Linked DNA regions of Homo sapiens: region 2 is linked to region 1. Evidence: fine-mapped expression QTL. A gene starts in region 1. The other region holds a variant in brackets. All regions are shown on one strand. Distances are between the middles of the regions. Region 1 holds the start of RGS10 (regulator of G protein signaling 10). Region 2 overlaps TIAL1 (TIA1 cytotoxic granule associated RNA binding protein like 1).

Region 1 (9,906 bases):
CAGAGATAAAACACCGTGAGCACCTCACACCCACCAGGCTACGGGCTGCACTAGGTGGTGCCCAGAGCAGGTCCCAGAGGCTCAACTGGCTCATAAGCTGACCACACCTATAGAAAACAAGGCCCTTCGGCTGGCCCCTCTGTCCCCCCAGGCCTGGGCCAGTGATATTCTGCAGAGAAAGTTGTCCCAGCTGCCAAGGCTACCCTGCTGCCGAGTTGTTAAAACAAAGACATTAAATTGCTGTGCAAACTGTCATCTTTAAATAAAACAAGCCCAGCCATAAACTTAAAACTGTTCCCAAGGGTTTAATCGGATCCTGTATGACAGGCCCGAGGGGACGGCCGAAACCTGCCCGGCAGGGTGGGAATTCCCCTGAGAGGTCACCCCTGGGTGCAGCTGCAGGGGTAGGGAGTCGGGTGGCTTCAGCTTGGCATCTCAGATGGGCATATTTCAGCTATCAACAATGCAAGGTTGATAACTGGGCAGGGTGAGTGGACAGAATCCCGTTGGGGGACCCTCACATTTCACTGGCCTGAGAATTCTCTGGGGTGCTTGTCAAAGACAAGCCCCACCTACAGTCCCCAACACTGAATCAGTCTGGGCAAGGCCTGAGAAGCTGCACTTTATCAAAGCCCTCCTGAACCCACAGGACGGGTGGAACACACTTTGAGAAACCTCAGGAAGAATAAGGAAATCCCACTCTGAACCTTGGAAGGAGGGGTTAGGAACTCAAAATCCTCCGCGGAAAGACAGTGTCTCCAGTGAGATTTTGCTGAAAGGTAGGAAAAGTGTAAAATAGAAGGTACTGGGGGAGGCAGGACCACAGCCAGGTCCAAATCAGGGGTCCTGCAGGAGCAGCTCTGGCTTTTGTGGAGCCTGAAGTTTATACAATTTGAGGATCCTCTTTAAGAAAAATAATTCAAAATTACAAAAAAAAAAAAAAAATTAAGTACAGGGTCCCAAAAATCACTTGGCTGTCTTCTCAGTACCTCGGCCCACAGGCCCAAATGACCCCTTTCTCACTAGGCTTCTTCTTTTCACACGGCTGGGTGGTGATGACCAGTCAGGCAAGAACTTATGTTATTTTCCATAATGGGGAAAGACCCTACACCTACAATTCCAAAGAAAATCAGGCTATTGGAGTGGAGGCATCCAGTACCAATCCATGATGTTTAGTGGCTGATCTTCCTTCCTTCCTTCCTTTTTTCTTCCTTCCTCCCTTCCTTCCTTCTTTCCTTTTCTTTGGATCTCACTCTGTCACCCAGGGTGAAGTGCAGTGGCACGATCTAAGCTCACTGTAGCCTCAACCTCCCAGGCTCAAGCCATCCTCTCACTTCAGCCGTCTAAGGAGCTGGGACTACAGGCACGCATCACCATGCCTGGCTAATTTTTTAATTTTTTTGTAGAGACGGGGTTTTGCCATGTTTCCCAGGCTTATCTGGAACTCCTGGGCTCAAGCAATCCTCCTGCCTCAGCCTCCCAAAGTGCTGGGATCACAGGTGTGAGCCACTGAGCCCGGCCTGAGACCGACCTTTCTGTCAGTGATGTAACCACATTTTATGAGGTTTAAAATTTGTTGCCCTGAAATAATTTGTTCCCTAAAACTGCCTTCAGCCTTTTTGGGGTGCAACCTGGCTACACGCAAAATCACCCCAAATCCATGTATCTCCCAGGATACAATGGTTCTATCTGTCAGTCTTCAACCCAAAAGCAATCTAAAGTAATAAGTAACGCGTACAGGGCTATTCATAGCAGCTCTATTTATAACAGGCAAAAGGGAGAAAAGCTACTAATTATTACACTTTTATTATGTGCCACACATTGTACTAGGGGCTTCATATGGTTTTGAGTATTTAATCCCATAACCCTATGAAACCCACTTTGCAGGTGGAGAAAGGTGCTGGAACATCAGCTCTCCTGAGTCAAAATGAAGCCTTCATTTTTAGCTTTGTTGATTTTCATGATGTAAATATCCCATCATAACTACTTTCAAGCTACCTATGGTTTACAACCAGTTTCCAAACTTTTTGAATATTTGGCAACTGGCTCTTGCAAGCCAGTTTGAGCCAGCTCCAGCACATCACTGAAACGGAGGCACAGAGAGATCAAGTAATTTGCCCAGTGTTGCTGAATGACAGAGTCAAGGTTAGAACCAAGAGTTTAATTCGAGTCCAGGCTCTGAGCAGCGCTCCACAGGCCTGTGCCAACCATAGAGACTGGTTAACATTAACACCCACAAGGGAATTCTTTGACTCACATGCAACACAAAAAGGTTTACATGACCACTAACGCTAACGGAGCACTTAGTACTTGCCGGGCAACAATGTAAGATCATTACAACAACCCTATGAAATCCTACATATTAAATACAATAATTTGCAAAACCTGATGGATGGAAGACAGGTTCCAATTAAGTACTTTAAAAGGCGAGTAGCTACTGTTATTCCCACTGTGCAGAACCTCATTCTGCAGAAAGGTCCCACGGCTGGTGAATATGGCGAAGGTGAGATTCGGATCCAGCCAGTCTGGTCCCAGTCTCTAAACCACAATGTCCCTCATAAAATACCAGGAGCAGAAAGGAAATGCACCAACGCGTTGGGACTCTGAGCGCCAAGCAGAAGTGAATCTTGGCGTGGGAAGCCCGGCAAAGCCCCCGAACTTCAGAGTCAGGGGAACCTGGGTTTGAAAGCCTCCCCATCACCTGCGGAGTGTGACTGGGGCAAGTTACCTAACAGCGCCTGGCTTCCGCTCCCTCCTCACTCACCGGGTTGTCCTAGGGGTGAAGGGAGAGTTCACCCAACGCGGTGGACAAAGCCCTTGGCGCACCCAAAGGCCTGCACAGGTCGTAGCTATTGTGATGAGCAAAAGGGTGGAAGGACCGGAATCAAGGGCACGGCTCCACCTTCACCGTGGGGTCTTTGGCCTATCAAGTTGCCCGAGATCGTGGCTCAGGCTGGCCCAAAGTGACGGCCAAGGCGAATCCTTCGTAACGTCAGAACTTCGCTGGCTCGGACCGCAGAAGTGCCCTTCTCCATCCTGGGGTTCCGCCACCCTCGCGATCCCACCTTTTGGCTCCTCGCGGCAGAAGCGAAGGCCCCCGACGCCCCAGGCCCAGGGGCCCAGTCGGATGCCCGGGTCCAGCCGTGCTCCCCCGGGCGCTCGGCATCCTTCCACCCACGCCCGCAGCGGAGGCGGAGAGCGTCACGGAGGGAGAAGCCCGCGCGCCGTTCCGCTTTCGGAATCTGGAGCCCCATGTCACCTCCAAAGTTTGGAGATTTGGGGCGCTCCTTTTTCTCCCAGACCATCACTAAAAAGAAAACTGCGGCTGTTCCTCTTTCAGCCAAACTTCCTCCCCGGGGCTCCCGGAGGAGCTCTGCGCTCCCGTCGCGGCTGGGACCGCGAAGGTGCGGTACCCAGCGGGGAGAGGTGGTGCGGTCGGCCGGGGCTCCAGTCTGGGAGGTACCACCGAGCCGCGCCCGAGCACAAGAGGGAGGGCAGGAGGCCGGGCGGGCGAAACGGCGCCCCGACCCCGAGCCCGCGGGCCCCCGAAGCCGCTTACCTGACGGCGGCCGCTTCCTGCTCAGCCGGCTCACGGCGCGGTTGAACATCGCCGCGGGCGCCCGAGGAGGAAGAAGGAGCAGCCCGGCGGCGCGGCGGCTGAGCCGGAGGAAGGCGAGGAGGAGGAGGAGGGCGAGGAGGAGGAGGAGGAGGGCAAGGAGGAGGAGCGGGCTCAGCACCGCCCCGGAGCTCTAGGTCCCCGCCCGCCGCCCTCCTCCTAGCCAGGCGCCGCGTGGCGCGCTCAGTGCGCCCTGCCCGCCCCCGCTGGTGAGGACTCGCGGTTCCGCTCCGGGGTGCCCGGGCGGGGCAGGGCAGGGCAGCCCCGGGTGACCCCCGATCGCCCAGAGTGTGCCCCGCGCCTGGGATAAGGTGCACTGGCCCAGAGGGAGCCCGCGCCGCCGGGAACTTAGTAGCCCCGCGGAGGCGGTTAGCGCGTCCCGGGGTCCCTGGCCCTCGCCTGAGATGCCGCCCCGGCCCGCCCCGCCCAGCTTCAAGCTCCCGGGCCCATCGCGGTCTCCCGCCTTCTCCCTGTAGCCCCGGAGAAACTGGCACGGCGCCGCGGGCGCACCGCGCTTCGGGGCTCTCAGCGAGCCTTCGCAGGTGGCGGGCGGGGTCCCCTCCCGGGTCACAGGCTGGGAAGCCTAGGCCTCGCGGTTCTGCAGAGTCCGGGCGCGGCCCAGCCTGTGGCCTTTGCCTCCTCGTCACCAGGATCCCCGCCTGCTGGGGCCTGGCTGCTCCTCGACTTCGTGGGCGCTGCGCCTTCCCGCCCCGCGAATGCGGGTGGGGCGTCCCCAGGGCCCGTGCGCTGAGCTAGCCGAGCCGCCGCGGGTGGGCGCCCTCTCCCCGGCCGTGCCGCGCGGGCGCCAGGACTCGGGGAGATCTGAGAGGATTCTGCAGGAACCCCCCGGTTCCTGCGCCGGGCGGTGCTCTGTCCCGCACACCGCGCTCTCGGGACACTTCTCTAACTTTGGGGACACGTGGGCACTGCCTCTGGCAGGGCCTTCAGGCTCCACGACCGGGACCACTCAAGCCCCCACGGCGTCACCTGCTGGGCGCTGCGCGCTCTACGGTCTCCTATTATTTCATTTCTTCTATGGAGCAGCCCCAGAGGGGATGTCATTAGCCCCCATTTTCTTGAACATTTGGTTTGCAAGAAATTGTCTTTCTGGCGAGTTTTATTTTTCTCCTTGTGTATCTGGCTTTGTCTCTAAATTGGTCTTTATTTTTAGCTGTACTAATTGCTATTTTTCCAAACCGTTCCCCAGTCGCCCTCCCCCCATCCCCCCGTCCTTTTGCAGTTTTTTTCACTACTTGGCACTTTCTTTTGTATCTTCTATTCTGAGCTTCCAGTTCTGCTCACTTTCCCTCTCCCTCTACCCACCCCACAGCCCCAGTTGCACCCCAAGTGTGGCCGGTGGTTGCTTGTTGTTTCCCTCCCCGCTATTCCCCCTCCAAAAGTCGTTTTCCTCCGAGCATTTCCAAGCACTCTCCCCCTTCTGCTGCCAAAAGAGGATTTCCAGGCTCCTGAAGCGAACGCGGTGACCAAGAACAGGGTTAGACCCAGCGCGGGGAGTTCTGCTTTTAAAACTGCTGTTGTTGGCCTACTCCGGGCCCAGACAAACTTCCATCTCATTGTAATGGGATCAAGCTGTGATACTTAACTATAGGCAAGAGTTTCACCTTTCGTAAGAGCGGGATTTTAAATGCTGGCAGAGTCCTGGATCCAAGTGAGGTCACTGCGTTCTTAAAACAATAAGGGAATTGGTGCAACGCACTCACCCAGAAAACTTCCCCGAGACCAAATTACAAGTAATCCTAAGACAGGAAATAAGCACACTGGCACACAGGGGTAAAAGTTAGGCACAGCAGCTCAGTGTTTTGCTAGTTGCCAAGTCCACCCTAGCGTGTCCTGAAAAACACTGGTGTGGCTTAAGACATGCTATGAATCCCTCCTGAGCTAAGAACCCCAGGCATCTCTTAAATAAAGGGAAAATATAACAGCCTTAAATCACTTTTACTGTCCTGTTAGCACATCAGAGAGTAAGTACAAAAATTAAGATGCATAGTTAGGGCCAGGCGCTGTGGCTCACGTCTGTAATCCCAGCACTTTGGGAGGCAGAGGCAGGCGGATTACCTGAGGTCAGGAGTTCAAGACCAGCCTGGCTAACATGGTGAAGCCCCATCTGTACTAAAAATACAAAAATTAGCCAGGCCTGGTGGCAGGTGCCTGTAATCCCAGCTACTCAGGAGGCTGACACAGAAGAATCACTTGAGCCTGGGAGGAGGAGGTTGCAGTGAGCCAAGATCTGAAGGAGGAGGTTGCAGTGAGCTGAGATCTCACCACTGCACTCCAGCCTGGGCCACAGAGCAAGACTCTGTCTCCAAAAAAAGGAAAAAAAGGCCGGGTGCGGTGGTTCACACCTGTAATCCCAGCACTTTGGGAGGCCAAGGCGGGCGGATCACCTGAGGTCGGGAGTTCGAGACCAGCCTGACGAACATGGTGAAACCTCATCTCTACTAAAAATACAAAATTAGCCAGGCGCGGTGGCAGGCATCTGTAATCCCAGCTACTCAGGAGGCTGAGGCAGGAGAATCGCTTGAACCCGGGAGGCAGAGTTTGCAGTGAACTGAGATCGAGCCATTGCACTCCAGCCTGGGTGACTGAGCAAGACTCCATCTCAAAAAAAAAAAAAAAAAAAATGCATGGTTAACGTTTAAGTGCACAGTTTAAAATTTTTGCCTGGGACATTGAAATTGCTATAAATACCTGTTTTAAGTGTCTGAAGGTTCAAAAGCCAGTTTTCAAAGTGTATTGTGCAAAAGACCACGTATAAAAGTATAAAGCCTCCTAACTCCTAAAACTCGCCAAATGCACACACACATACACACACACACTCACACACACACACACACACACACACACGATTAAGTTCCAACCGTGGTTTGCATTGGATTGAAGGTGCTCACCATCCCAATGGCATTTTTCCTGTAATTCCAGCATGCACTTTCTGAAGCTTTTTTTTTTTTTTTTTTTTTTTTTTGAGACAGAGGTTTCACTATGTTGTCCAGGCTGATTTCTGACTTCTGGGCTCTCAAGTGATCCTCCCTCCTTAGCCTCCTAAGTCAAGCCTTCACAAACAAACTGCGGTAGCCAGTGTGGGGAAGAAGAGGATGAGCGGTTTAGCCCCTTTCTTCCCCTGCTGGTCTCACTTTTGGTTCAAGGATGTTTACATCAGGCAAGAAGCAAGAGCCCCGGATGTCTTCTGGTAACACAAGATTTCAGAGGGATTACTGGCTTTGGAGTTCAATATTTTCATTCTACCCAGAAACTAAAATATTGGTAAGCTGTGAATACATTTTAGAGCCTCTCATCACCAGAATTTATGTAACAAGACTATTCTAGGCCAGTTGAGGCAGACAAGGTATAGTAAAATGAATAAGTGGCCAACTTAAAGTCAAGAGACCTGGGTACTAATCTGACCAAACAGCAACCAGCTGTGTGGACACACCAGATGTGTCCTCAAACACATCGTAGCCTCAAGGGACAGGGCAAGGAGAGGTCCACCTACACTCCGAGCAAGTGGTATTCAATAGCAATAAACAAAAAAGCATCTGGCATCGTGCCCAGCACATGTAGGCACACAAAAAATTACTGGAATTTTAATTACTCTTACTCCCCCTACAATGATGTTTTAATAAATGATAAACTTTATGGTACAGCCAGTCAAAAGTGGATTTCTTTTCAATTATAGGAAATTGGCAGGGTTAGTAACACTGATGTTCACATTGTTACTACACTGTGAAGGAGGGAAAGTAAATTGTTACAACCTCTCTAGAAGGAAGAGAAGCAGATGTGTTAATATATGTATTTGACAACACATGTAAGAGTCTTCAAAATGTTTATACCTCTTGGACTAGTGAATAATTCTATAATTGGTAATTTGTGCCAAAAGAAAAACAATAAATGATGCGAACATTTACGTGTACAATTAAACATAACACTTCCTTTTATCAGGGTTATTTACAGTAGCTAAAAATGCCCGCTAAGAGAATGACTAAGGTATAACATATTCTCCTGATAGAATATTTAACAGTTATAAAAAACTGTGAAGAATCTTTGGAACTTGGTGGAAAAAACTAGTGCAAAGAGAAAGATGAAAGAATCTTAGACGAAGCTCTCGTTGAAAAATCAGGATACAAATATAGAGAAAATTTTCAGTGTGGAGGAAGAGGAGAATACGGTATGTTTATACCTAGAAAGCTAGCAGTTAATTACACCTAAATATTACTAGACTATATCTCTAGATAATAGGATAATGGGTTCTTTTTTCTTCATTACATTTTCCTGTTTTGCAAACTTCTGCAGTGTATGTGCTTTTAAATCAGGGAGAAAAATCACTAATTAGAGACTAGTTGAAATCTCTACTGGGTTTAATGCCACAAAAATACATAAGGCTTCATTTCTGTTGCAGTTTTGTGTTTTGTTTTTTAGAGACAGGGACTTGTTCTGTCGCCCAGGCTGGAGTGTGGTGCTGCGATCATAGCTCACTGCAGCCTTGAACTCCTGAGCTCAGGCAGTCCCCCTACCTCAGTCTCCTGAGTAGCTAGGGCTACAGGAGTGCACCACCATACCCTGCTACTTATGTATGTACGTACGTATGTATTTATTTATTCATTAATTTTTTTATTTTTAATTTTGTTTATTTATTTATTTATTTATTTGAGATGGAGTCTCAAATAAATAAATAGAGATGGGATTTCACCATGTTGGCCAGGCTGGTCTCCATCTCCTGATCTCGTGATCTGCCCACCTCGGCCTCCCAGAGGGCTGGGATTACGTAAGCCACTGCACCTGGCAAAAGTAAATTTTATTTTTAGAGCAATTTTAGGTTCACAGCAAAATTGAACAGAAAGTAGAGTTCCACATGCCTCCTGCCCCAAACACGCATAGCCTCTTATAGCATATGACCTCCCACACCAGAGAGGTACCTTTGTGCAATCAAGGAACCTACAATGACACATCGTTATCATCCAGAGTTCATATCAAATACCCTTTTCCCATCTCAGGACTCCCACCTTTTTTGGAGGGTGTGGGGCTAAGGAGCAGAAAGTTTAATACGCAGGAGTAAGAGAAAGGAGAACAGTTCTCTCTCTAGGGAGAGAGAGGGGCTTCCGAAAGGAAAGACCAACAGTGGTGGGGTTCACTGGATTTTATAGGCAGACTTGAGAAGGCGGTGAATGATTTACATAGGGCCCACAGATTGGTTAGATCAGATGTGACGTTTACAAAGCGCCCAGGGAAGGCTGGCCACCCCACCCTAATCTTACTACACAAATGAGTTTTCCACTTGACTGGTGACATCTTGTCTGCTCCTTATACACATGTGGCTGGCAAAGACAAGGGAAGATGGAGCCGCCATTCTGAACATGCCTAGTCCCAAGTAGCTTTTTTTCTGCCGGCATTCACCCGTGCAAGCATCCAGCTTGCTTGTCTATGTCTGCAGCCGGGCGTGGCGGCACATGCCTGTAATCCCAGCTACTCGGGAGGCTGAGGCAGGAGAATCGCTTGATCCTGGGAGGCGGAGGTTGCGGTGGGCCGAGATTGTGCCATTGCACTCCAGCCTGGGCAACAAGAGTGAAACGCTATCTCAAAAAAAAAAAAAAGAAAGAAAAGAAAGAAGGAAGGAAGGAAGGAAGGAAGGGAGGAAGGGAGGAAGGAAGGGAGGAAGGAAGGAAGGAAAGAAAAGAAAAAGGAGACAACAATGGGAGAGAGATTTCAGCCAATCAGAAAGGAGATGGAGAAGCAGAAACACTTAACAAGAGGAAGGAGCTACAACCTAAATGCAGGCAGGGCGTGCCAGTTAGAACAAGCCAATTCACCCTGCAGAGCCTCAGAGGAGCTCCTGACCCAAAGGCACAGACCACAGAGAAGAGGACAGGCAAGGACTGAAAAGGGGAGATTGATAGAAGTCTATATAAGGAGACTTCAGTTCCCCTGCCACCTACCTTAGGAAATAATGATCTTGGGAAATAGTGAAGTACAGAAGCTCTGGACTTATGAACTACTGGCTGAGCTAAAGGTGCAGATGAGCTGTGGGCATCAAAGAGAGTGTTAAGCCTAGATCTGTACACAGGATTGGGAGGCCCTTCTTCCTCAGCCCCTTCCCCAGCAGCCAGATGTACTAGAAAAATTTACTCTCTCCAAAACAAAAAACAAAACAAAACAATGGAAATTAACATTTAACGTTCTCCAGAGTTAGCACTGGCCAACTACACAGACATACACAATCCACATGCCTCTTTCACACACACAGTTCCAAAGAGCTTTGGACACCTCCTTCTCAAGGA
Region 2 (8,660 bases), 40 kb after region 1:
ACTTCTAAATCCATCTGACCTTTACCAATGTACAAACACAATTTTAATAATCTTCCTTATAGTATAATCATTCTTTTTCTAGCTATTTATTTTCGAGTTTATGAAAGAGGAATGAAATTATACTCTATTATTAAAACATACATAACATTACATAAAAGTTGTGTTTGTAGTTAACATTCAAGTATATTCAAGTTTCAGATTCAATACATTAAGTAACTAATGACTAAATTTAGTATTAAAAAATATAAATTGAGATGGAAGAACGTACCAGTTTGTTATAAAAAGATACAAAACCATAGCCTTTGGATTTTCCAGTTGCCATGTCTTTAACTACCCGGGCATCCCTGTGAAAAGAAGCACAGCTAAATGAGGGAAGTAAGAGCCACCCTCAAAATAAAAACTAAAAGGAACCACACACACTGTATTGTGAGCATTTTTAAAATAAAATTCCAGTTAGCCCTAATTAACTACAACCATTCCTGAACTCTCCCTAATGCTTCTTTACCTGTTAGAAAAAAGCAGTAGGACAAAAACATGTAATAAACATGCAACCTAATCAAATAGCCTGTGCTTTCTAAACTAAATGCTCAAATTTGAAGATTAATAGGAACAACAGTTTCCCTTTCTAATATTCTATTTACTAGTGTCCTCTAAGGTTTACTGATTCTATAAATTACTGTAACAATACTAACTACTTTACCATGCAATCTCTAAATAGTTAAATGTCTTCTGCCTAGTGATACAAAATATATGAAATATTAAAAAATTGAAAAAGAGGAAAAAATAGGAATTAAAAAGGCATACATGGCCTGTTAACAGATTTCTTTATTTTTCTTGGTCAATTCTCTACCATCATTTTGGAGTTTGGGCAGCTGTAAATTTTGAAAAATTGACATTTTCAGAAATTTAAGAAAGGAGAATAAAAAACTAACAACAATGCTAAGCACACCAGTACGAAAACAACAAATTTACACAGAAATTTTAGTGAGTAAGTTAAATGATTGGAAATATAGAACTCCACTGAATATAGAATGTTAAAATGTAAATACTAAAATATGTATATATAAATAATGTATAATAAGAATAAATAGAAATGAGAAAAAAAATCTACAACTGAGTTCCAGTGTGCACAGTTCCTTGCAGTTAGCCTTCAAGATCCTGTCCATTCTTATGAGCAATTCTGCAAAATAACCAGAATGCTATTACTTTTAATTGTGACTTGGACTTAAGAAAAACTGCAGGTCTCAGGTATAAATAAAGATTGAAAAACAGCAACCTGTATTATTTTTATATTGATTTTTAAAATAGTACTACTTACCACATTTAGATTAAAAAGCAAAGCAAATATCAAAACAGAAAGTTAAGAATTACATCTTTTAAAGAAATTAAATCTATAGAACAACAAATTGTATAGAGAAAATATTGTTGTTCTTAGTTGAAACACTTTCCTGTAAAGTAGTACTAAGATGTTTAATTTAAATCTACAGGAAATATACAAAATAAACTGATTTTAATCAGAAAGATAAATTATGATAAACATTTTCTACAATTCATAACCATTTTTAGTTTTCCAATATATTTTTTACCAAGTAACAACAGTAAAATCTGAGCATAAATTTGTTAAAAATCAAACCACATTTGCCTCTTAACTAGTAGAATCAAATATCACTAACAAAAACATCTAATTAATCCCACATTTATGACTCATACATTGAAACATTTTAATAGTATAATAGTACTTTTCACTTATAGCTAAAATATCAAAAACACATTTATCATAATAAAACATGAACATTTCCAATTTAATCACAATATATCCAAGGATTTACCTACTCTCCCCCATTTATAAATTCCTCCTATAAAAGTTATTGAACTCTTACACAGTATAGATCACATTTACTTTTGATTAACTCATTATCCTAAACCATCAAATTTTGAAAACATATGACAAAAAGCTAGACTTTATAAGTTTTACCATTCAAACATCTGCTTCAAAGATAACAAACAGAATCACTTAAATTTTTTTTAACATATTATACACAGGATTAGATGAAAACGAGACCCCAAGACACTGAAATGACATTAACATTTTCAACAACATCCACTACTCAAAACAAACCAAAATAAATAAATGAAAAATAAGAAACAAAACAAAACCATACTAACTAGAGAAAGAAAATCTTAATTCAATTACAAGTTAATCATATACAATTCTGCCTATCATGACTGAGTGTAGTACTGATTATGATACTTACGATATTTTACCAAAGGGGGCAAATGCTGATTTGATATCTTCTGTTGTAATTTCTGGACTCAAATCCCCAACAAACACATGGAAGTGATCTGAAATCAGAGCATTTGGTAATCAAATACTTAAGAAGTCAGCCACTAAAACCTTTTTAAGGCAACTCTAGAGGAGGAAAAAAAAACCTATTTAAGCTGGTAATGCCTCCTGGATAATTTCAGAACTCTTCCACAGTAAAATGCAGCAGGAGTACTTACTGGAAGTATCTTTTTTCTGGCTACTTGGTGTGGTTGCCCAGTTTACTTTGACCTCCTAAAAATAAAGATTATATTTAATAAAATTATTAGGCATGTCATGAGTTACAACACTTACCACTTATTAAATCATTTATCAAGCAGGGTTATTTTTGTAAAAGCACTAAGCTGAATAAAGCAAAACCATCACTCAGCAGCCGAATATCTGCTCAAAAATTTGCCTAGAAAGAATACAAACTAGTTTGACATGCAAATATATGTACTCATAAGGTGCCATCATCCTATTATCTTACCTTTCCCAAAATTTTTCTCCCATTCATAGCAGCTAATGCAGCAGCTGCATCTCTGTGTTCATAAAATTCCACAAAGCAATATGGGTCATTGCTTGTATGCTGCAAAACAGAAAATCCAACAGAAGAGTTGACCCTTCTGCTATCGGGTTGCTGAGAAGAAAATCCAGGAAAAAACATTACTGATAGCTGGGAATATACAAGGTGAGACTGCATAAGCTTATGAAAGCCTAACACTTTTTAAATAAGATTTAAAGCTAAACCTGACTTTGCACCTCAGAATACTGCTGAACTCAAACGGAACTATAAAAGCAGTTGTAGAATCATGAGCATCAGTATTAAATGAAAATAAAGAATTCTGGTGAAGTGTGTTAAATATAAAATAGAAGATTATATTAAACCAAACAAAACCTCAAACTCAGATCTGATGAGGACCACTCCTTACCACTACTTTCCTTCTCCAATATTATTTTTAAATTACGTTCTACTTATGCATCATAATCCTCTATAAGTGGTATCCCAGGATACAGAAATACAGCAAGAACCAACTTCATAAACTACTGATCAAAATTAGGATCAATACTACAAATGATGGAATTCTATGCTGCTACAAAGACTGAATTTTATTGATTTCTTTTCTGGATATGGAAAGAATGAAAATAAAAACAAGAAAACTTAAGCTTTATAACCAGCTACTGAAATGAATTCCCTACCTTCCAAAATAGTCTAATGTACTGAAGATTCTATATACTTTGAATTTGGTCTTCCAAAGATCAGAGAAATAACAGTGGTGATCAAGAAAAGAGGTTCTGAAAATGTATCTGAATAAAATATTCCAAGACAAAGCTATAAGTTTACATCATAAGAACACCATATAAAAAATCTATATTAAATATATTCTGCAACCCTGTGCTTGACAGTAGTTACCTAAAACACATTTATAAAGATGTGAAGAAAGTAGTACTACCTAAGCTATAGCAACATTCTCACCTGACAACCAAACTAGAAATGAATTTCTATGAAACTGCAACCTGTACTGAATAGCTGCACAACTGTACAAATACATATTTTTATGTAAGGCTAAAAACATTCATCATTATTCAATGTAAAATGCCCTATAAGAATAATATTTAAAATGTGGAATTCTAGTTGGACTTACAAGGGATAAATATACCAGATAAAATAAAGATCTTTTCAACCACAACAGTTTTTCATTCCAGGAAAGTTTTAGAAGAAAAATCCAAAATAAGACGTCTAAACAATAGTGGCAAAGGAACCAGAAGGCATTTCCTTGAGGGAAAAAAAGTGGGATCGTTAATACTGACAACAAAACTATGGGCTCTCATACAAAATCCTACTGTTGTAGCCACGTGAATGCTGTTCTTAAGAGGTAAAGAAAGGAAATGGGGGAAGACTTCAAATGAAAACACACATTTAAATTCTTGTAAAAGAGTTATTACATTTACCATAAATATTCATTGAAGAAAGGACATCAAAATAAATAAGAGGCTAAAATTGTGCTAGTTGAGTTTTCCTTTCACTCCTATCTCTTTTGCCCCAATGGTCTCTAAGGAAAACACTGATAATCACAGCAAAACATACAGGGGTCCAACAGCAGATCTATGATAATCCCATACACTTTAGGAAACTAGTCTACTCGTGAATACCAATTTCAAATCTATCTAATAGTAGGCCAGCTCCCAATCAATGTATGCACGTGCATGTATATATACACATATATTCACTGACATCACATATTTTATATATTCACATCACACTGCATATCATCTAATTTAAGACACCACTTATTTCTAAGTCACATCCCAACTGTCAGATATTAAAATTCTAAAAAAATTTGACTTAGAATCAATAATATATATTTGTATTATATAAGGAAAGCTAGAATCTATGATAACAACATCTAAAGTAAAAAAAAAATCATAAAACTATGGGGGAAAAAGGATTTTTCACATACTGAAATGAAATTTATGAAAGAAAAATAAATAGCTGCTAGATACTCTGCTAGAGTTTATACCCTCTGGAAGCTTCTTATTTACACCACCAAGTGACATCCTAAAAATCAATTATGGGCTGGGTGCAGTGGCTCACACCTGTAATCCCAGCACTTTGGAAGGCTGAGGCAGCTGGATCACTTGAGGTCAGGAGTTCGAGACCAGCCTGACCAACATGGTGAGACCCCCATCTCTACCAAAAATACAAAAAATTAGCTGGGTGTGGTGGCGGGCGCCTGTAATCCCAGCTACTCAGGAGGCTGAGGCAGGAGAAT[C/T]GTTTGAACCTGGGAGGCAGAGGTTGCAGTGAGCCAAGATCGTGCCACTGCACTCCAGCCCGGGCAACAGAGCCAGACTCTGTCTCAAAAAAAAGTGCTCACGCCTGTAACCCAAGCACTTTGGGAGGGCGAGGTGGGCGGTTCACGAGGTCAGAAGATCAAGACCATCCTGGCTAATATGGTGAAACCTTGTCTCTATTAAAAATACAAAAAATAAAAAAATAAAAAATATTAGCTGGGCATGATGGCACGCACCTGTAGTCCCAGCTACTTGGGAGGCTGAGGCAGGAGAATCACTTGAACCCAGGAGGCCAAGGCTGCAGTGAGCCGAGATCATGCCATTGCACTCCAGCCTGGGCAAAAGAGCAAGATTCCATCTCAAAAAAAAAAAAAAAAAAAAAAAATCAATTATGGCTGGGTGCAGTGTCTCATGCCTATAATCTCAGCACTTTAGGAGGATGAGGCAGAGGCAGGAGGATCACTTGAGCCTAGGAGTTTAGGACCAGCCAGAAGTTCGGGACCATTGGTAACATGGTGAAACCAATCTCTACAAACACATTTAAAAATGAACTAGGTGTGGCGGTGCTGTCCCAGCTACTTGGGAGACTGAGGTGGGAGGATCACTTGAACCCAGGAGGTGGAGGCTGCAGTGAGCCATGATGGCGCCACTGCACTCCAGCCTGGAGGACAGAGTCAGACCCTGTCTCTTAAAAAAAAAAAAAAAAAATCCGTTATGTCCCTACCTTATTTAGCGTTGTCACCAATTTTTGTTGGATGACATAAATGTCAAGACAGAGAAATATGAGACTTTACAAGCTCAAATCTAGGAGTTCTAGAATATGGATGTTATGAAAATTCATTTCGAGTCCCTCTACCCTTCAAATAGCTGTATGTATACATGGGGTTTTAAAAAATAGTTAAAATAAATCTTTACAAATGTTTCTCAAAAATTTTCTAGTGAGTCTTTCCCCACTTTCTCACAACCCGTTCTCTCCTAAACCTACTTCTGTCAGCTTCCAAGCTAACCATGCCACTGAAACTGCATGTTGAGCTCAACAATGACCTCTCTGCTGCTTCTGTGATTCCTTTTCCATCCTAATCTTTACTTCCAAGCAGAATTCACTACAGTTGACCACCATCCTCCTTTAAACATTCTCTTCTGTCTCCTACCACACTCTGGTTTTCCTGTTTCCTCACTGTAGGATCTTTCTTCCCTTACTCAAACTCTAAATGTTGAGCTTGTCCAGGGCTCAGACCTCACGGCCTCTGTGCTCTTCTTTACCATCATTCTCTCTCTGTGAACTCATCTAGTCCCATGGCTTCATGGATTCAAATACCACTGCAAGCTTCAGCACCGGTCTCTCTAGAGTTGCAAACTACTTTATCCAACTGCCTAATCTAACGTCCACTTTGATGTCTAATTCATGTCTTAAATCTAACATCCAAAACACAATTTCTGATTCCCACCACTCCCCATGGTGACATCCATCAGGTCACCCCCACTTTAGCAAATAAATAGCATTACCAACTATACAACTGCATTAACATGAATCTTAGGGTATTTCCTGATTTCTTCCTTTCCCTATGTCCCACAGCCAACCCAGTCCTATCAATTCTACCTCCAAAATATATTCCAAATCTATCAACCTCTGTCCTTATCTTGACTTCGGCTAGCACTTTCGAGAATAAGCCTCCATCATCTCTTACCTAGACTAGTGAAGTAAATCCAGATGGTTTTTCTCCTTCTGCTCTTGCCCGCTACAATCTATTCTCCATAAAACAGTCATTCTCTACATAGAGTAGTAAGCTTAAATATGCAAATCTTGGCACCTCATCCCCCTGCTTAAGCCCCTCCACTGGTCTGCCACAGCAATCAGAGTAAAACCTAAACTATGTCATGGACCATAATGTCCTGTGATTCTGAATCCTGCTGTTAGACTCATTTCCCTTAACTCCCCTCCATCCCTCACCAGACTCTAGCCATCGGTCTTTGATTCCACAAACACAAGTTCATTACCAACTCAAGACTTGTATTTGCTGTTTCCTCTGCCTCCAGCTCTTACCATAGATAGCACCATCTTGTTATTCATCTCAGCTCAAAGAGGTGACATCTCTCATCACCTAGCCTATATAGCACCAACCCTCCAATCATCACAGAACTCTGTTTTATTCTCTTCATGGCTTACATCCCTATTTGCTTGGGAAACTCATTTGGCTGTCTCTCCATTATATCTCCAGTACCTTGTATAGTGCCTAGTGCAAAGGAAATTTTTGATCGATGAAAGCACAAATAAATAATTAAAGGCAGGAAGGAAAAATATAATACACCAGAACAAAATGATGATTGTCATTACTTGGGAAAGACAATCAAAAGGCCAATGCACTTTAAAGGTTTTTAACAGTTCTCCGTTTCAGGATAAAACAAACTCTTTAGCACAGTTTCTAGCCCTTTCCATAAACTCCTGCCATCTCTTACGACTAATTCCATTTTAACTACAACCATGCTACGGGTTCTATTTTTCCCTCTCTGTCTCAAGCACTCCTGCTCTCCCTACCAACCTGGATCAAAGTTCCCTTTATTTGGAATCCCTTCTTCCCTCAATTCCTTTCTAGCCAGTATGTACTACTATCCTTTCAAGGTTTCCGCCTAGGCAGTGAGTCCTCCAAGAAGCCGCTCACTGACCTAAGGCTGCACTGGATACACATTTGCTCCCACAGCACTTTAAGTTGTCTGCTTCTAGAGCATTTATTATCCTACTTCCTAAGTGCCTGCTAACTCCTTTGTCTCCCTACTAAACTGTAAAATTCTCTGGGCCAAGGAACTATCTTTATTCACCAGTGTATCTCTAGCACTTACTGCAGTATCTAGTACATAGGAAATAGTCCAAAAAAAAAAAAGAAAGCTGATCAATGAACAAAAACACAAGGAAGAAAAGCCTAAAACATGACTAATTGGGTGCTGCTACAGTCTTAGCAGGAAAGTATAAAAAGGTAAGTATTTGCTACAGACACACGAGACGAACGGTGCTGCACACTACACACATAATAACTTCGTGTTCTCGCACATGAACACATGCTGTCTAAATCGTTAACATTCTTATTGGAATTGTATGAAATACTTTCCAATTTTTCACCATTCTGAAATGAGCTCTAATAATGTTCTGAAAGCAGAATCACTTCAAGATAACCACACCATGAAGAATGACCGTTTGAGCTTAACAGCACGGAAACTTTGCCCTCTTAAATAAAACTCCATTCTAAGCCTAGTTTGTCAGCCAAATCAAAGTAATAAGTCAACACAACACAAATCTCTCCACCAGAATAACTTGAGGCTTACAATGAAATTTTAAAATCATGCTAATCAACCCATCATGCTAATTGTCAGCACATGGAACTGGGAAGATCTTACCTCTGTTATCATTTTACAGCTTTTACAGGGTCCAATCTGACTGAACAACTGAAGTATAAGGACTTCTGTCACATCTCTGGAAAGGTTACCTACGTATCTGCACAAGAAAAAAATACGTTATCAGCAATTTTTCCTTTAGCTCTGGCTCTAATGTGTTATCATCTAATTCATCACC

What was found. PIP is the estimated chance that this variant, and not a neighbour inherited with it, causes the effect.
Region 2: its variant is fine-mapped to the expression of RGS10 in whole blood (INTERVAL, PIP 0.93).

Annotation. Positions count from the first base shown.
Region 1 is chr10:119,539,031-119,548,936 of GRCh38, forward strand. RGS10 (regulator of G protein signaling 10) reads right to left here and starts at 3,689. Exons shown (of 5, transcript NM_001005339.2): 1 at 3,560-3,689. The coding sequence starts at 3,608. RefSeq lists silencers at 3,142-3,311, 3,362-4,101, 4,112-4,181, 4,232-4,391 and enhancers at 4,602-4,681, 4,944-5,452.
Region 2 is chr10:119,579,667-119,588,326 of GRCh38, forward strand. It overlaps TIAL1 (TIA1 cytotoxic granule associated RNA binding protein like 1), which reads right to left. Exons shown (of 12, transcript NM_003252.4): 2 at 8,486-8,582; 3 at 2,793-2,891; 4 at 2,503-2,557; 5 at 2,256-2,343; 6 at 269-344. Among named protein-coding and RNA genes, the nearest start is that of TIAL1, 13 kb to the right of the region's middle. The variant C/T (reference allele first, on the strand shown) is at 5,077.